Regions from separate parts of the Homo sapiens genome. Here region 1 is linked to region 2. Evidence: fine-mapped expression QTL. Tissue or cell type: whole blood. Region 2 holds a variant in brackets; the other region holds the start of a gene. All regions are shown on one strand. Distances are from middle to middle.

Region 1 (8,088 bases), 110 kb before region 2:
GCCCGGCGGGAAGGCAACTAAGGCCCGGTGAGAAATTGAGCACAGCAGCTGCTGGCCCAGGTGCTAAGCCTCTCACTGCCCAGGGCCGGCGGGGCCCGCGGGGCCGGCTGGCAGCTCCCAGTGCAGGGCCCGACGAGCCTACGCCCACCCAGAACTCGCGCTGGCCCACAAGCACAGCACGCAGCCCCGGTTCCCGCCCGCGCCTCTGCCTCCACACCTCCCCGCAAGCTGAGGGAGCCGGCTCCGGCCTTGGCCAGCCCAGAAGGGGGCTCCCACAGTGCAGCGGCGGGCTGAAGGACTCCTCAAGTGGCGCCAAAGTGGGAGCCCAGGCAGAGGAGGCGCCGAGAGCGAGCGAGAGCGAGTGAGGGCTGTGACGATTGCCAGCACGCTGTCACCCCTCAGTGTGACTGGCTAAGCACATAAGGAAGATAGTTGATGAGTATTTTTTTTCACCTTAAGATAACTGAGTATGTAATGAATATTCTGATAGAGATATGTACAAGGTACAATGGGAGTTTGGTAATAGCTGGTTTAATTAATTAGATAATCTGTTAATTGTATGTCTAGCTTTAACCTGTGAACCCTTTATGAATCTATGAACCTGTACTGCATCAGGCAAATCCAGTTGGGTTTTTGTGTTTTTTGTTGTTGTTGTTTGCTTATTTTTTTGAGACATAGTTTCATTTTGTTGCCCAGGCTGGAGTGCAATGGAGCAATCTCAGCTCACTGCAACCTCCACCTCCTGGGTTCAAGTGATTCTCCTGCCTCAGCCTCCCAAGTAGCTGGGATTACAGGCATGCACCACCACCCCTGGCTAATTTTGTATTTTTAGTAGAGACGGGGTTTCTCCGTGTTGGTCAGGCTGGTCTCGAACTCCCGACCTCAGGTGATCCGCCCGCCTCGGCCTCCCAAAGTGCTAGGATTACAGGCGTGAATCACCGCGCCCGGCTCAGTTGGTTTTGCCTTCATAGTAATTCTCCTGTTCTACTCTCCATGTGATCTCCCTGCTGACAAACTTGTTTCCCTTTCACACATTCAGTGCGCTAAATAGCCAGAATGAGATTTTAAAAATGTAAATCAGATTAAGCTACTTTTTTGCTTAGAACTCTGCAGTGGTTTCTCATCATATTAGGATAAAAATCCTTGCCAAGGGTCTACAGGGCCCATATAACCTTACCCTGCCTCCTTCTCTTCCTCTCAGCACTCTCTCACCCTTTTCCCCTGTGCTTTAGCCACAAGACCACAGTAGTCTTTTTTTCTATTCCTTTAACACATCAAGCCTCTATATACAACTGGGCCTCTGAAATTATTGTTCCTACTTTCTGAAACATTCTGCCCGCAGACCTTCACATAGCTATTGTTCAAATTTCTACTTAAGTGTCATTTCCTCAGCTTGGCTTTCTCTGATCACTCCGTCTTTCCCCATCCCCTTCCAAGTACTTATGACTGCCTGTCATTAGTATATTTATTTTGTCGTCTGTCTTTCTCACTGTAATGTAAACCACAGGCTTGTGGGGACTTTTCCCAAGGTTTGGAACAGTAGCTCATATATTCTGGCTGCTCAGAAAATATTGGTTGAATGAATAAATAACTTTGACACAACCGCTCACAGAGCTTATCACTGCTTGAAGTTATCTTTTTCCCATACTTTGTTATACTTTATTGCCTGTTCCTCCCACTCACCCTACTAGAGCAGCAACTTGTTTGCCTTGTTTATTTTTATATCTCTGGAGTCTAGAGCAGTTCTTGGCCTATAGCAGGTGTGTTGTCAGTAAATACAGCAGTCTCATCCACAGTTTTGCTTTCACTGGTTTCATTTACCTGAGGTCAATCACAGTCCTAAAATGTTAAATGGAAAATTTCAGAAATATACAATCCATGAATTTTAAATTGTGTGCCACTCTTAGGAGTGTAATGAAATCTCCTGCTGCTCACTTCATCCTGCCTGGGACATGAATTATCTATCCCCTTGTCCAGCATATCCATGCTGTCTATGCCACCTACCTGTTAGTCACGTAGTAGCCATCTTATCAGTTATCAGATTGACTGCAGCAGTATTGCAGTGCTTATGTTCAAGTACCCATTATTGTACTTAACAATGGCCCAAAGTTCAAGAGCAGTGAATACTGGCAATTCAGATATGCCAAAGAGAAGCCATGAAGTGCTCCCTTTAAGTGAAATGGTCAAAGTTCTTGACTTAAGGAAAGAAAAAAAAACCCTATGAGACTGCTAAGATCTATGGTAAGAACCAGTCTTTTATCTGTGAATTTCTGAAAAAGGAAAAAGGAATTTGTGCTAGTTTTGCTGTTGCAACTCAGACTACAAAAGTTATGGCCACAGTGCCTGATAAGTGCTTAGTTAAGATGGAAAAGGCGGCACAGCACAGTGGCTCATGCCTGTAATCCCAGCACTTTGGGAGGTCAAGGTAGGTGGATCACTTGAGGCCAGGAGTTTGAGACCAGCCTGGCCAACATGGCGAAACCCCAACTCTACTAAAAATACAAAAAATTATCTGGGTGTGGTGGCATGCACCTGTAATCTCAGCTACTCCGGAGGCTGAGGCAGGAGAATCGCTTGAACTTGGGAGGTGGAGGTTGCAGAGAGCTGAAATGGCGCCACTGCACTCCAGCCTGGGTGACAGAGTGAACTTCATCTCAGAAAAACTAAAACAACAACCACAAAAAAGATGGAAGAGGCATTACATTTGTGGGTGGAAGACATGAACAGAAAACATGTGCCAATTGATGGCAACGTGTTGAGCCAGAAAGTATTGAGCCTATACAAAGACTTCAGTGAGGGATTCCCTAAAACGAGTGATACCAAGCCACTTACTGCAAGTAATGGATAGTTACATGAATGTAAGAATAGATTTGGACTGAAAAATATAAAAATCACTGGAGAGGCTGCATCTGTCTCTTCATCTTATCACATAGGCATTTTATCATCATACATCATCTCAAAAAGAAGGGTCAGTACAATAAGATATTTTGAGACAGAAAGACCACATTTACATAACTTTTATTACAGTATAATTGTTCTATCTTATTATTACTTGTTAATCTCCTACTGTGCCTGATCTATAAATTAAGCTTTATCATAGGTATGTATATATAGGAAAAAACATAGTACACATAAGGTTTGGTACTATCCATCGTGTCAGGCATCCACTTGGGGGTCTTGGAAAGTAGCCCCTGCAAATACAACTGTATTTGTTAAATGAATGAATGGATGAGTAAGACATCGTATTCACTTCTTAAAGATCTTAAAATCTAGAGAGGAGAGAAACATTGCTGTAGGAGAGGATAAACAAAGGACTGTGAAATCTCTGGAGAAATTGAAATCAGGAAGGGAAGGGCAAATCGCAAAAGTCAAGCCAGGAGCATTAAGTTAGATTTGTGCTTTGAGATGAAAACCCCTTACAAATCCTAAGTCAGGGAATGCAATGGTTCTAGAGCCAACTCTAAAGAAAATTTCACACATGGGAAATACATCCTACTGGATATCCGGATTAAAAGCGTTCAGTAGAGACTGGTGCAGTGGCTCAGGCCTGTAATTCCAGCACTGTGGGAGACTGAGGCAGGCAGATCGCTTGAGCCGAGGAATTCGAGACCAGCCTGGGCAACATGGCAAAAACCCCATCTCTATTAAAAATACAAAAAATTAGCCAGGCGTGGTGGTACATTCCTGTAATCCCAGGTACTCAGGAGGCGGAGGTGGGAGGATCACCTGAGGCCAGGAGGTAGAGGCTGCAGTGAGCTGTGACCATGCCACTGCACTCCAGCCTGGGCGACAGAGTGAGACCCTGTCTCAAAAAATAAAATAAAATGAGAAATAATAAAATAAAATTAGCTGGGCATGTCGGGAGGCTGAGGTGGAAGGATTGCTTGAGCCCAGGAATTCGAGGTCATAGTGAGCTCTATCACGCCACTGCACTCCAGCCTGGACGACAGAGCAAGACCCCAGCTCTTTAAAAGAAAAGCGTTGAGTAAATACTTGTTGATTAATTCCATTTCTGGAAATAATCGGATTTATGAAAGAGGCCCTGCCCACCTCTTTGATATGGACTTGTACTAATGAACTACAATTCCCAGCATGCGTCAGAATTAGGGCCGTAGAGTTTTTTAAAATATGGACTACAACTCCCGGCATGCCACACCAGGATTCGAGGACCACACGCCTCAGCCAGCCCCGGCAAGGGCCTATCAGGGGTGGGTCGGGGCATCCGAGCGGGTTTGACGGAAGGAGCGGCGGCGACGGAGGAGGAGGATGGAGGCGGTGGTGTTCGTCTTCTCTCTCCTCGATTGTTGCGCGCTCATCTTCCTCTCGGTCTACTTCGTATCCTTGCCTGAGGCAGGCGAACGCCTTGCCGGGGGACACGGCTGAGGGTGGGCCAGTTGGGCACCCGGGCAGGTGTGTGGGACTAGGGAGGCGCCCGGCGGCGGGCGTGGGCTCCCTGGGAGCTGGCCTGGCCGGGGCGGTGGCGCGGGCCCCGGAGCGGGTAGGAGAGGCTGGCTGCCCTACCCGACGGGCCCTGCTGCCCTGCACGCACTTGCCCTGCCTGGGTTGCCGGCCGCCCCTCACTCGGGTCCGAGTGGGCCTCTCCGGGCGCGCCCCGTCTCGGCCTGCCCGCCTGCTCTCCGCTCGTCCCCGCGGCGCCCGGACCAGCCCTGCCTGAGCCACGGCCGCCCTCGGGAGAGAAGCGTCGCTGTTTTTCTGGGAGAGGCCCTGCGCCGTGCTCTTCGTCGGATATTGGGGGTCCCAAGGGCGGTCGCTTGCGACAGTCGGGTGCCGGGATAAGTGCGGGCCATTTGCCTCCTCCTGTTCCCCACGCAACACCCCCGGCACCCGCCCCTTTGTTCTGGCGGGTGTTAGTACTTGCAGGGACCTTTCACATCCAGGAGTTGACTCATTCGCCAAAGGAGCGAAGTTGCTTCCTTCACTGTGCCGTTTTGTAGTGAGTGTTGGAAAGGAGTTGTTTTAACAACTGTCTACAAAGTGATTATTTTGGTTGTCCCCGGTGGTTGCAGATCTGTAAATTCAATAACTACATCTGCTGTAGTTCCCAATCGTTTCTCAGCTTTTAAATTTTTCTATCGATCCATGTTAAAACTTAAGTTGCAGTATTCAAACTGTTTTCCAGAGCAATAAATGGTGGTTGAATTTAGCACTGCAGTAGCCATGTCGGCTACAACTCTTCCCATCTCTTGACAAAGCATCTAGGCTTAGTTGTTGCCCAATGTTGTATTGCACCATCCAGGTTTAAGTAATTAAATATAAGAAAAAACGTATGAGGAACTCCGCATTTCAGCTTCCTTTCTTGGAAATCACATGTACCTGTTTCTGATCGGATTAAACCATTTGTTTGCTAGAGCATGCGGGCTTTAGGATAGTCGTACAGAGTATATGTTCAGTGCAGCTTCATTTTTCATTGTGGACTGGCATCCTGTTGTAGTGGAAAGGGACAAAATTTGGAATCAGATTTCCTGGTCAGCTAGCTCTTTGCTTGCACATTATTTCCCTAAGCCTCAGTTTTCTGATCTTTAAAATAGGAAATGTTTATTTCCTAGATATGCACAATGAGAATGGTGCTGAGCACCCTAGCACAGTGCCTGCCCCATAGCTAATGTTCAGTAAATATTGCTCTGCCTTCGTGTCCCCACCCTCCCCAATTGAGCAGCAGTTTTTACTTTGATGATATCTAACGACAAGATTTCTGAGTTTTAGTAGGTTTGGGGAGCTGATTGAAAGGGCAGCATCACTTGCCTAAGTTTTGATGACCTCTATGCCCCTCTTGTGATATAAGGAACTAGAGCAAGCTTGTCCAACCCACGGCCCACGGGCTGCATGTGGTCCAGGACAGCTTTGAATGTGGCCCAACACAAATTTGTAAACTTTCTTAAAACATTATGATTCTTTTTTGGTGATTTTTTTTTAAGTTCATCAGCTATCATTAGTATTAGTGTATTTTATGTGTGGCCCAAGGCAATTCTTCTTCCAGTGTGGCCCAGGGAAGCCAAAAGATTGGACACCCCTGAACTAGAGCTTATGCTCAGAAATGTAGCTGGGTTTTTTCTTTTTGCAGTTTGGAAAACCAGGCTTGATAATTTTAAATAGCCCTGGTTTACACCAATTTATGCATTTAGAGAAATGGTAGGTGGAATGTTTGACTTAGACATTACATTAAAATACATTCGGGGGGTGTTTTGATGAAATTCAGCATATTCTGTATTTTAGAATAGTTGCACTAACTTAGGGATAGGAGGTGGAAAATGGTCACGGTAGACTTAATATAGGATATAAGAGTTTTCTTGGACTTTGAACTGTGGACAAAATCTACAGGAAGGGGAAGAGGTGAATATTCCAAATCAGACACTGGCAAGAGCGAAGGTGCAGAGACAGGTATGTTCGTGGATTTCTGGGCTATGGTTAACGAATAGACCATCTGGAGCACATGGTTGATTTTGGCGTCAGTAGAAGGCTAAGTTGGAAAGGCAGGATTACATCAGATTTTGGAGGGCTTGAATGTTAAGGGTGGGAGGGAAGTCTTTCACTTTTATCCTGCAGGCAATAGAGAGCCATTGAAAATTTTTATTTTCGGTAGTTTATTAGGAAGATGAATCTGCCGAGTGGGTTGGAAACAAGAAAGATTGGAAGATAAACCAACTGGATAGGGTCGTCTGGATTTCAAATAGAGTGCTGGTTGTGGGCAGGTGAAAGGAGGGAATATGTGAGTAGTATTTAGAAGAAATGATTGCCAGGACCTACAAATGAGTGATTATGATATATGAAACAGAAGGCAGAGATAGCTTTCCATATTTTGATCCTGGGCAAGTGATACTTGTGTCAGTAACAGAAATAAAACAAATTGGAGGAAGATCAATCTGTGGAGAAAGTGATGAGTTTGACTTTATTTTATTTTCATGTTTATTTTTGAGACAGAGTCTCACTGTCACCCAGGCTGGAGTGCAGTGGCGCAATCTTGGCTTACTGCTGCCTCCATCTCCTGGGTTCAAGCGATTCTCCTGCCTCAGCCTCTCAAGTAACTGAGACTACAAGTGCCTACCAAATCTGCTGCTCAGACTGGAGCGCACTGGTGTGATTATAGCTCAGTGTAACGTGAATCCTGGGCTCTAGGCATTTTGCTGCCTCACCTTAGCAGTACTGCTACTAATAGCTAGCATTACAGGTGCTCATGCCCGGCTAATGAAAAAAAAAGAAAAAATTTGTAGAGATGGGGGTGAGGTGAGTGAATCACTTGAAGCCAGGAGTTCGAGACCAGCCTGGCTAACATAGTGAAACCCCGTCTCTACTAAAAATACAAAAAATTAGCTGGGTGTGGTGGTGGCGCGCACCTATAGTTCCAGCTACTTGGAAGGCTGAGGCACAAGAATTGCTTGAACCCAGGAGGCAGGGGTAGCAGTGCGTTGGAATTGCGCCACTGCACTACAGCCTGGGTGAAAGAGATGGAGGCTTGCTATGTTGCCTATGCTGATCTTGAACTCCTGCTTCAGGCGATCCTCCTGCCTCAGCTTCCCAAAGTGCTGGGATATTTCCCATTTTTTTTTTTTTAATAGCCATTGTTTTACATTTGAAGAACTCAAACTAAATGTTCTGGTTGGGTCAGATTAGATTTGAGCAAAATAGGATTATTTTGTAAAATAATTTGTTGAAGGAACATGAATGGGAAAATTGAGTTGTCTAATGAGCAAACTTTAGGAAACAACTCATTTTTTTCAAGTCAAATCTAATTCTGCCTTGTAACTGGGATTGCTTTCTGAAACTTAAATACTTAGTTATTATAAAAGAAATATAATAATTCCTTATCTTGATCATCAGATAATTACATTGTCTGATTTAGAATGTGATTACATTAATGCTAGATCATGTTGCTCAAAATTAAACAAGGTAAGACATTTCTTTGCTCATTCTCTGGCATTGAAGCCAGGTCATTTTCCATACTTAAGATTATTATAGATAACAGATGTATTTTTGATTTTAGAGTACATGTTGTCTCTTATTCATTGGAAATTTGATGGAACTGCTGTGTTTTACAATATTTTAGATCATGAAATTATGCTAGAAGATCTG
Region 2 (8,108 bases):
CTCCGTGTTGGTCAGGCTGGTCTCGAACTCCCGACCTCAGGTCATCTGCCCACCTTGGCCTCCCAAAGTGCTAGGATTACCGGTGTGACCCACCATGCCTGGCTGGTTAGAATTATCTTTAACTCATCACAGTCTACCTTCAAGTTATATTGTATCACTTCACACATAACATAAGTTTACAGGAGTCTACCTTTGTTTCCCTCCTCATAGCTTTTATGCTGTTGTTGTCATACGTTTTACTTACACATTTGTTATAAACCACAGTCTATACTATTATTTTTGCTTGAACAGCCAGTTTTCTTTTTTAGATGTTTTATTTTGAAATAATTATAAACGGGATATTGCAAATAAATGTATAGAAAGGTCCTGTGCATCCTTCACCCCTCCTCCCTCAATGTTGACATTTTGCATAACTACATACCGTATCAAAACCAGGAAATTGGGCGGGTGCTGTGGCTCACGCCTGTAACCACAGCACTTTGGGAGGCTGAGGCAGGCAGATCACCTGATGTCAGGAGTTTGAGACCAGCCTGGCCAACATAGTGAAACCCCATCTCCACTAAAAATACAAAAATGAGCCGGGCATGGTGTCGGGCACCTGTAATCTCAGCTACTCGGGAGGCTGAGGCAGGAGAATCGCTTGAGCCTGGGAGGCGGAGGTTGCAGTGAGCTGAGATCTCGCCATTGCACTCCAGCCTGGGTGATGAGAATGAAACTCCTTCTCAAAAAAACACAAAAAACGAAAAACAAAAACCCAGAAATTGGCATTAGTACAATCCACAGGGTTTAGTCAGATTTTACCAGTTACACATGCACTCATTTGTGTGTGTATGTAGTTCTATGCAGTTTTATCATACATGTAGCTTTGTGTAATTGCCACCACAATCAAGATACAGACCCATTTCATCACCATAAGCCTCCCTGATGCTTTTATAGTCACATCTACCTTCTTTCTCCCCAGTCCATAACCCCAGCAGCCATTCTTCTGTTCTCCATCTTTTAATATTGTTATTCAAATACATTACGTAAATGGAATCACTTATGTAGTGTCATACAGTCTGTAGCTTTTTAAAAAAATCAATCAGCATAATTCCCTTGAGAACCAGCCAAGGCCTAATTCTATCGTAGTTTTTTCCTTTATGTTGCAGAGTAGTATCTGTGGTATGGATGTACTACAGTTTCTTCAACCATTTATACATTGAAGGACATTTGGGTGGTATCTAGTTCTTGGCTATTATAAATAGAGTTGTTATCAACATTCATGTATAGATTGCAGAGCGCATATAGGTTTTCATTTGCCTGGGATAAATGCCCAAGGGTGCAATTGCTGGGTTGTATGGTAAGTGCACTTTTAGTTTTAAAAGAAAATGCCAAAATATTTTCCAGAGTAGCTATCCCATTCTACATTCCTGCCAGCCATGTAAGAGTGATCCAGTTTTTCCCATATCCTTGCCAGAATTTGACATTTTTTATTTTATCACTCTGTTAGGCATGTAGTGATAATGCATTGTGGTTTTAATTTAGATTGCCCTAATCACTGAGGTTGAACATCTTTTTATTAGCTTGTTACCTGTATCTACTCCTCAGTGAAATGTTTTTAGTACACTTGCTAATTATATTGTTTGCTTTTCTACTGTTGAGTTTTGGAAATTCTTTATATTCTAGATACTAAATCCTTTGTTGGATATTTGGCTTGCAAATATTTTCTCCCAGTCTGTAATTTATCTTTTCATTCTCTTGAGACAGGGTTTCACTCTGTTACCCATGCTGGAGTGCAGTGGTGTGATCATGGCTCATTGCAGCCTTGACCTCCTGGGCTCAAGTGATCATCCCACCCCAGCCTCTCACGTGGCTGGGACTACAGGTGTGTGCCACCATACCCAGCTAATTTTTTCTGTTTTTTGTAGAGACATTTCTTGAACTGCTGGAAATGTTGCTGAGGCTGATCTTGAACTGCTAGACTCAAGCCATCTGCCCACCTCTGCCTCCCAAAGTGCTGTGAATACAGGCGTGAGCCACTATGCCTGGCTCTTTTCATTCTCTTAACAGGAGCTTTCACAGAGCAAAATTTTCTAATTCTTAAGAGGTCCAATTTATCAAGTTTTCCTGGATCATAGTTTTTGTTTGTTTGTTTGTTTGTTTTTGTTTTGCTCTCATTGCCTAGGCTGGAGTGCAATAGTGCGATCTCAGCTCACTGCAACCTCTGCCTCCTGGGTTCAAGCAATTCTCCTGCCTCAGCCTCCTGAGTTGCTGGGATTACAGGCAGGTGCCACCAAGCCCGGCTAATTTTTGTATTTTTAGTAGAGACGGGGTTTCACCATATTGGCCAGGCTGGTCTCGAACTCCTGACCTCAGGTGATCCACTCACTTCGACCTCCCATATTGCTGGGATTACAGGCATGAGCCACTGCGCCTGGCTGGGATCATAGTTTTGATATCAAGTTGAAGTACTGTTCTCCCAGCCGTAGGTTTTGAAGATTTCCTCCTGTTTTTTTTTTTTCCAAAAGTTTCATAGTTTTACATGGTATGTTTAAATCAATGATTCATTTTAAGTTAATTTTTGTAAAAGGTATGAGGCTCTTCTTTTTTTTTCTTGGCCTACAGACTTTTTTTTTTTCTTCACCAATTGTTGAAAGGGCCGTCCTTCCTCTATTAAATCATGTTTGTACCTTTTTTCTTTAAAAAAATCAGTTGTACATTCTTTTGTGATTCTATTGTTTCCTCTATTATATTTCATTGATCTACATATTTATTCTTCCACCAGTACTCTACTGTCTTGATTACTGAAGTTATTTAGTAAGCCTTAACATTGGGTAGAATGATTCTTCTTACAACATTCTTCTTTTTCAAAATTGTCGTAACTATTTTAGGTCCTTTACCTTTCCATATAAATTTTAGAATAAGTTATTTATATCTATAAGAAGCCTTGCTGGAATTTGGATAGGAATTATGTAAATCAATTTGGGAAAAATTGATGTTTTTAGTGTTGAGTTTTCTAAGTCATAAACACAGTATTTCTATTTATTTAGGTCTTCTGTGATTTCTTTCATCAACATTTTGTAATTTTCAGCATACAGCTCTTATACATGTTTTGTTAGATTTATAACTAAGTATTTCATTTGCTTTGTAGCAATTGTAAATGGTATTGTGTTTTCAGCTTTGGTTTCTACATGTTTGTTGATTTTTGTGTGTTGATTCTGTGTCCAGTG[A/T]CCTTCCTTATTAATTTTTAAAATTGCAGTTAAAAATAGATTTATTAGGATTTTCTGTGTAGATAATTGTCATCTACAAATAGGGACAATTTTATTTCTTTCTTTCCAATCTGTCTGCATTTATTGTTTTTCTTTCTTTATTGCATAGGCTAGAACTTTCAGTACTGTGTTGAATAAGAATGATGAGAGTACGTCTGTGGTAGGAGAAGGTGGGAGCATCACTTGAGGCCAGGAGTTAAAGGCTGCAGTGAACTATGATCATGCCACTGCCACTGCACTCCAGCCTGCGTGACAGAGTGAGACCCTGTCTCAAAAAAAAAAAAAAAAAAAGAAAGAATGGTGATGCCATGTTCCTGATATTAGGGGGAAAGCATTCAGTCTTTCAGTCTTTCACCACTAATTATGCTGTTACCTGTAGTTTTTTGGTAGATGCTCTCTATCAAGTTGAGTCAGTTCCTCTCTAATCCTAGTTTGTGAAACTTTTTTTTTTTTGTGCACGTGAATGGGAACTGGATTTTGTAAAATGCTTTTTCTATATCAATATGGTCATATGACTTTTCTTCTTTTTTATTTTATTTTATTTTTTAGACAGGGTCTTGTTCTGTCACTCAGGCTGGAGTTTAGTGGTGCAATCATGGCTCACTGCAGCCTTTACTTTCTGGCGTCAAGTGATCCTCCCACCTCAGCCTCTTGAGAAGCTGGAGCTTCAGGTGCATGCCACCATGCCCAGCTAATTTTTAATTTTTTTTGTAGAGACAGGATTTTGCTATATTTCCCAGGCTGGTCTTGAACTCCTGGACTCAAATGATCCTTCCACCTTGGCCTCCCAAACTGCTGGGATTACAGGTGTGAGCCACTCTGCCCAGCCTGATTTTTCTTCTTTAGCCTGTTGATATGATGGGTTATATTGACTGATTTTCAAATATTGAACTGGCCTTGCATACCTGTAATAAGTCCAACTTGGTTATGATGTATAATTTTAAAGAATTTTTTATTATTTATTTGTTTTATAGCGACAGAGTCTTGCTCTGTCACCCAGACTGGAGCGCAGTGGTGCAAATCATAGCTAATTGTAATCTCAAACTTCAGGCTCAAGCAATCCCTCCGCCTCAGCCTCCCAAGTAGCTGGGACCACAGGCATGTGCCATCATTCCTGGCTAATTCTTTTTTGATATTGCTGAATTTAATTTATTAATATTTTGTTGAGGACTCAATTATCTCTTAAAGAGACATAAATAATAGGAAAAACATCTTACATATTTTACCTGTGTGGTAACCATTTCTGACACTCTTCATTCCTTTGGTTAGATCAATATTTCCATGTGGTATCATTTTCCTTCTACTTTCAGGCCTTCCTTTAATATTTTTTAAAGTCTGGTAGTGATGAATTCTGCCAGATTTAAAAAAAATCTGAAAACATCTTTATTTTCATTTTTGAAATATGGTTTTTAAAAAACTGGGTGTATAATTTAAACTTGGCAGTTCTTTCTTTCAGTTATTCTTCTTCTTCTTTTTTTTTTTTGGAGACAGAGTCTCGCTTTGTTGCCCAGGCTGGAGTTCAGTGGCGCGATCTCGGCTCACTGCAAGCTCTGCTTCCCGGGTTCATGCCATTTTCCTGCCTCAGCCTCCTGAGTAGCTGGGATTACAGGCACCCGCCACCATGCCCGGCTAATTTTTTGTATTTTTAGTAGAGACGGGGTTTCACTGTGTTAGCCAGGATAGTCTCGATCTCCTGACCTTGTGAGCTACCTGCCTCGGCCTCCCGAAGTGTTGGGATTACAGGCATGAGCCACTGTGCCTGGCCTTTTTTTTTTTTTTTTTTAAGAGGTAGTGTCTCACTCTGTCACCCAGGATGGAGTGCAGTGGCACGATCGTAGCTCACTGCAGCCTTCTTGGACTCAAGTGGTTCTCCTGCCTCATCCTCTCAAGTACCTAGGGCTACAGGTGTGTGCCACCAGGCCCAGCTAATTTTGTAAAACTTTTTTTGTAGAGACAAGGGTCTCCTTGTCTGGCCCAGGCTGGTCTTCAGCTCCTGGCCTCAAGTGACCCTTCTGCCTCGGCCTTTCAAAGTGTTGGGATTACAGGTGTGAGCCACCACACCCAGCCCTCTTTCAGTTGTTATTGTTTTTTGTTTATTTGTAAAAATGGGATCTGCCTATGTTTTGAACTCTTGGGCTCAAGTGATCCTCCCACTTCGGTCTCCCAAAGCGCTGGGTTTACAGGCACAAGCCACCATGCCTGGCCATCTCTTTCAGTTCTTTAAAGATGTTGTTCCATTGTCTTCTTGCTTGCATTGTTTCTTTTTTGGGGGTACATAGTAGGTATGTATATTTATGGTGTACACGAGCTATTTTGATACAGACATACAATATGTAATAATCACATCAGGATAAATGAGATATCCATAACCTCAAGAATTTATCGTTTGTGTTACAAACAATCTAGTTGTACTCTTTTAATTATTTAAAAGTGTACAATTAAATTATTTTTTACTATAGTCACCTCGTTGTGCTAGCAAATACTAGGTTTTTTGTTTGTTTGTTTGTTTGTTTTAGATGAGGTCTTGTTCTGTTGCCCAGGCTGGAGTGCAGTGGCACAATCTCAGCTCACTGCAAGCTGGGTTCAAGTGATTCTCCTGCCTCAGCCTCCCGGGTAGCTGGGACTATAGGCATACGCCACCACATCCAGCTCATGTTTTATATTTTTAGTAGAGACAGGGTCAGGAGTTCGAGACCAGAACTCCTGACCTCATGTGATCTGCCCGCCTTGGCCTCCCAAGGTGCTGGGATTCCAGGCGTGAACCACAGTGCCTGGCAGAAATACTAGCTCTTATTCATTCATTCTATTTTTTTGTACCCATTAACCATCCCCTCTTCCTCCCCACTCCCCCACTACCCTTCCCAGCTTCTGGTAACCATCATTGTACGCTCTATCTCCATGAGTTCAGTTGTTTTAATCTTTAGCTCCTACAAATAAGTAAGAATACGCAAAGTTTGTCTTTCAGTGCCTAGCTTATTTCCTTAACATAACTACCTCCAGTTCTGTTCATGTTGTTGCAAATGACAGAATCTCATTCTCTCTTTTTTTTTTTTTTTGAGATGGAGTCTCGCTCTGTCACCCAGGCTGGAGTGCAGTGGCGTGATCTCGGCTCACCGCAACCTACGCCTCCTGGGTTCAAGCAGTTCTCTGCTGCAGCCTCCTAAGTAGCTGGGACTACGGGTACCTGCCACCATGCCTGGCTAATTTTTTTGTATTTTTAGTAGAGACGGGCTTTCACCATCTTGGCCAGGCTGGTCTTGAACTCCTGACCTCATGATCCACCGGCCTCGGCCTCCCAAAGTGCTGGGATTACAGGTGTGAGCCACCGTGCCCGGCCTCTCATTCTTTTTTTTATAGCTGAATAGTACTCCATTGTGTATATGTACCACATTTTCTTTATCCATTCATTTGTTCATAGACACTTAGGTTGCTTCCAAATCTTGGCTATTGTCAATAGTGCTGCAGTAAACATGGAAGTGCAGATATCTCTTCGATATACTGATTTCCTTTTTTTGGGAGGGTGGGTATTTCCCTAGCAATGGGATGTCTGGATCATATGATAGCTCTATTTTTGTTTTTTTGAGGAACCTCCAAATTGTTCTTCATAGTGGTTGTACTAATTTACATTCCCACCAGCAGTGTATAAGGATTCCCTTTTCTCTACATCCTCACCAGCATTTGTTATTGCCTGTCTTTTGCATAAAAACCATTTAAAATGAAGTGATATCACATTTTCTATATGATAATAGAAGTCATTATATAAAAAAGATACTTGCACATGCATGTTTATAGCAGCACAATTCACAATTTCAAAAATATGGAACCTGCCCAAATGTCCATTAATCTATAAGTGGATAAAGAAAACATGGTATATATGTATACATCATGGAATACTACTCAGCCATAAAAAGGAGAGAAATAATGACATTCGCAGCAACCTGGATGGAATTGGAAATTATTATTCTAAGTGAAGTAACTCAGGAATGGAAAACCAAACATTATATATTCTTACTAATATGTGGGAGCTAAGCTATCAGGACGCAAAGGCATAAGAATGATACATTGGACTTTGGGGACCTGGGGAAAAGGATTGAGGATGGTGAGGGATAAAAGACTACACGCTGGGCACAGTGTACACTGCTAGGGTGATGAGTGCACCACAATCTCAGAAATCACCACTAAAGAACTTATTCATGTAACCAGACACCACCTGTTCCCCAAAAATCCTATTGAAATAAAAAAATTAAAAATCAAAAACCACAAAATTCAGAATTACAGGAGCTTTCCTCTCCCACAACCACCTAAGATTCTGGACAACTATATTTATAATGGGTATCTCAGATGATTCTCATGAATAAGTCATCCTGATAGATTTTAGGGCCAATTTTTCATAAGAATTCAAGGAAACTGTCTTTGCTGGGCTATGTGAAATTACCCAGAGCTGCTTATCTCTCATTGGCAGGAGGGTTTGGCATCAGTTGCAGGTGACTTATTTCCTTTTACTGTGGATGATAGAGATAATTGAAGAAAAAGCCTTAGTTTGTATTTAAAAAAATAAATAAAATAATGGGTTTGGAAGATATTATTTGCAAGCCTCATGGTAACCTCAAATTTAAAAACGTACAATGGATACACAAAAATTAAAAAGCAAAAAATTAAAACATACCACAAGAAAATCATCACCTTCACTAAAAGGAAGACAGGAAGGAAGGAAATAAGAGAAGACCATAAAACAACCAGGAAACAACAAAATGACAGGAATAAGTCCTTACTTATCAATAAAATAAGTAATTGGTAATCGACTACACTCAACAATCAAAAGGCATAGAGTGGCTGAATGGATTAAAAACAAAACAAAAC

What was found. PIP is the estimated chance that this variant, and not a neighbour inherited with it, causes the effect.
Region 1: CNIH4 starts here. The variant in region 2 is fine-mapped to the expression of CNIH4 in whole blood (TOPMed, PIP 0.98).

Annotation. Positions count from the first base shown.
Region 1 is chr1:224,352,659-224,360,746 of GRCh38, forward strand. It overlaps CNIH4 (cornichon family member 4), which reads left to right and starts at 4,221. Exons shown (of 5, transcript NM_014184.4): 1 at 4,221-4,335; 2 at 7,837-7,905. The coding sequence starts at 4,267. RefSeq lists enhancers at 3,874-4,013, 4,571-5,071 and a silencer at 4,294-4,663.
Region 2 is chr1:224,465,305-224,473,412 of GRCh38, forward strand. It overlaps a transcript of CNIH3 not described here. Among named protein-coding and RNA genes, the nearest start is that of WDR26, 35 kb to the left of the region's middle. The variant A/T (reference allele first, on the strand shown) is at 3,210.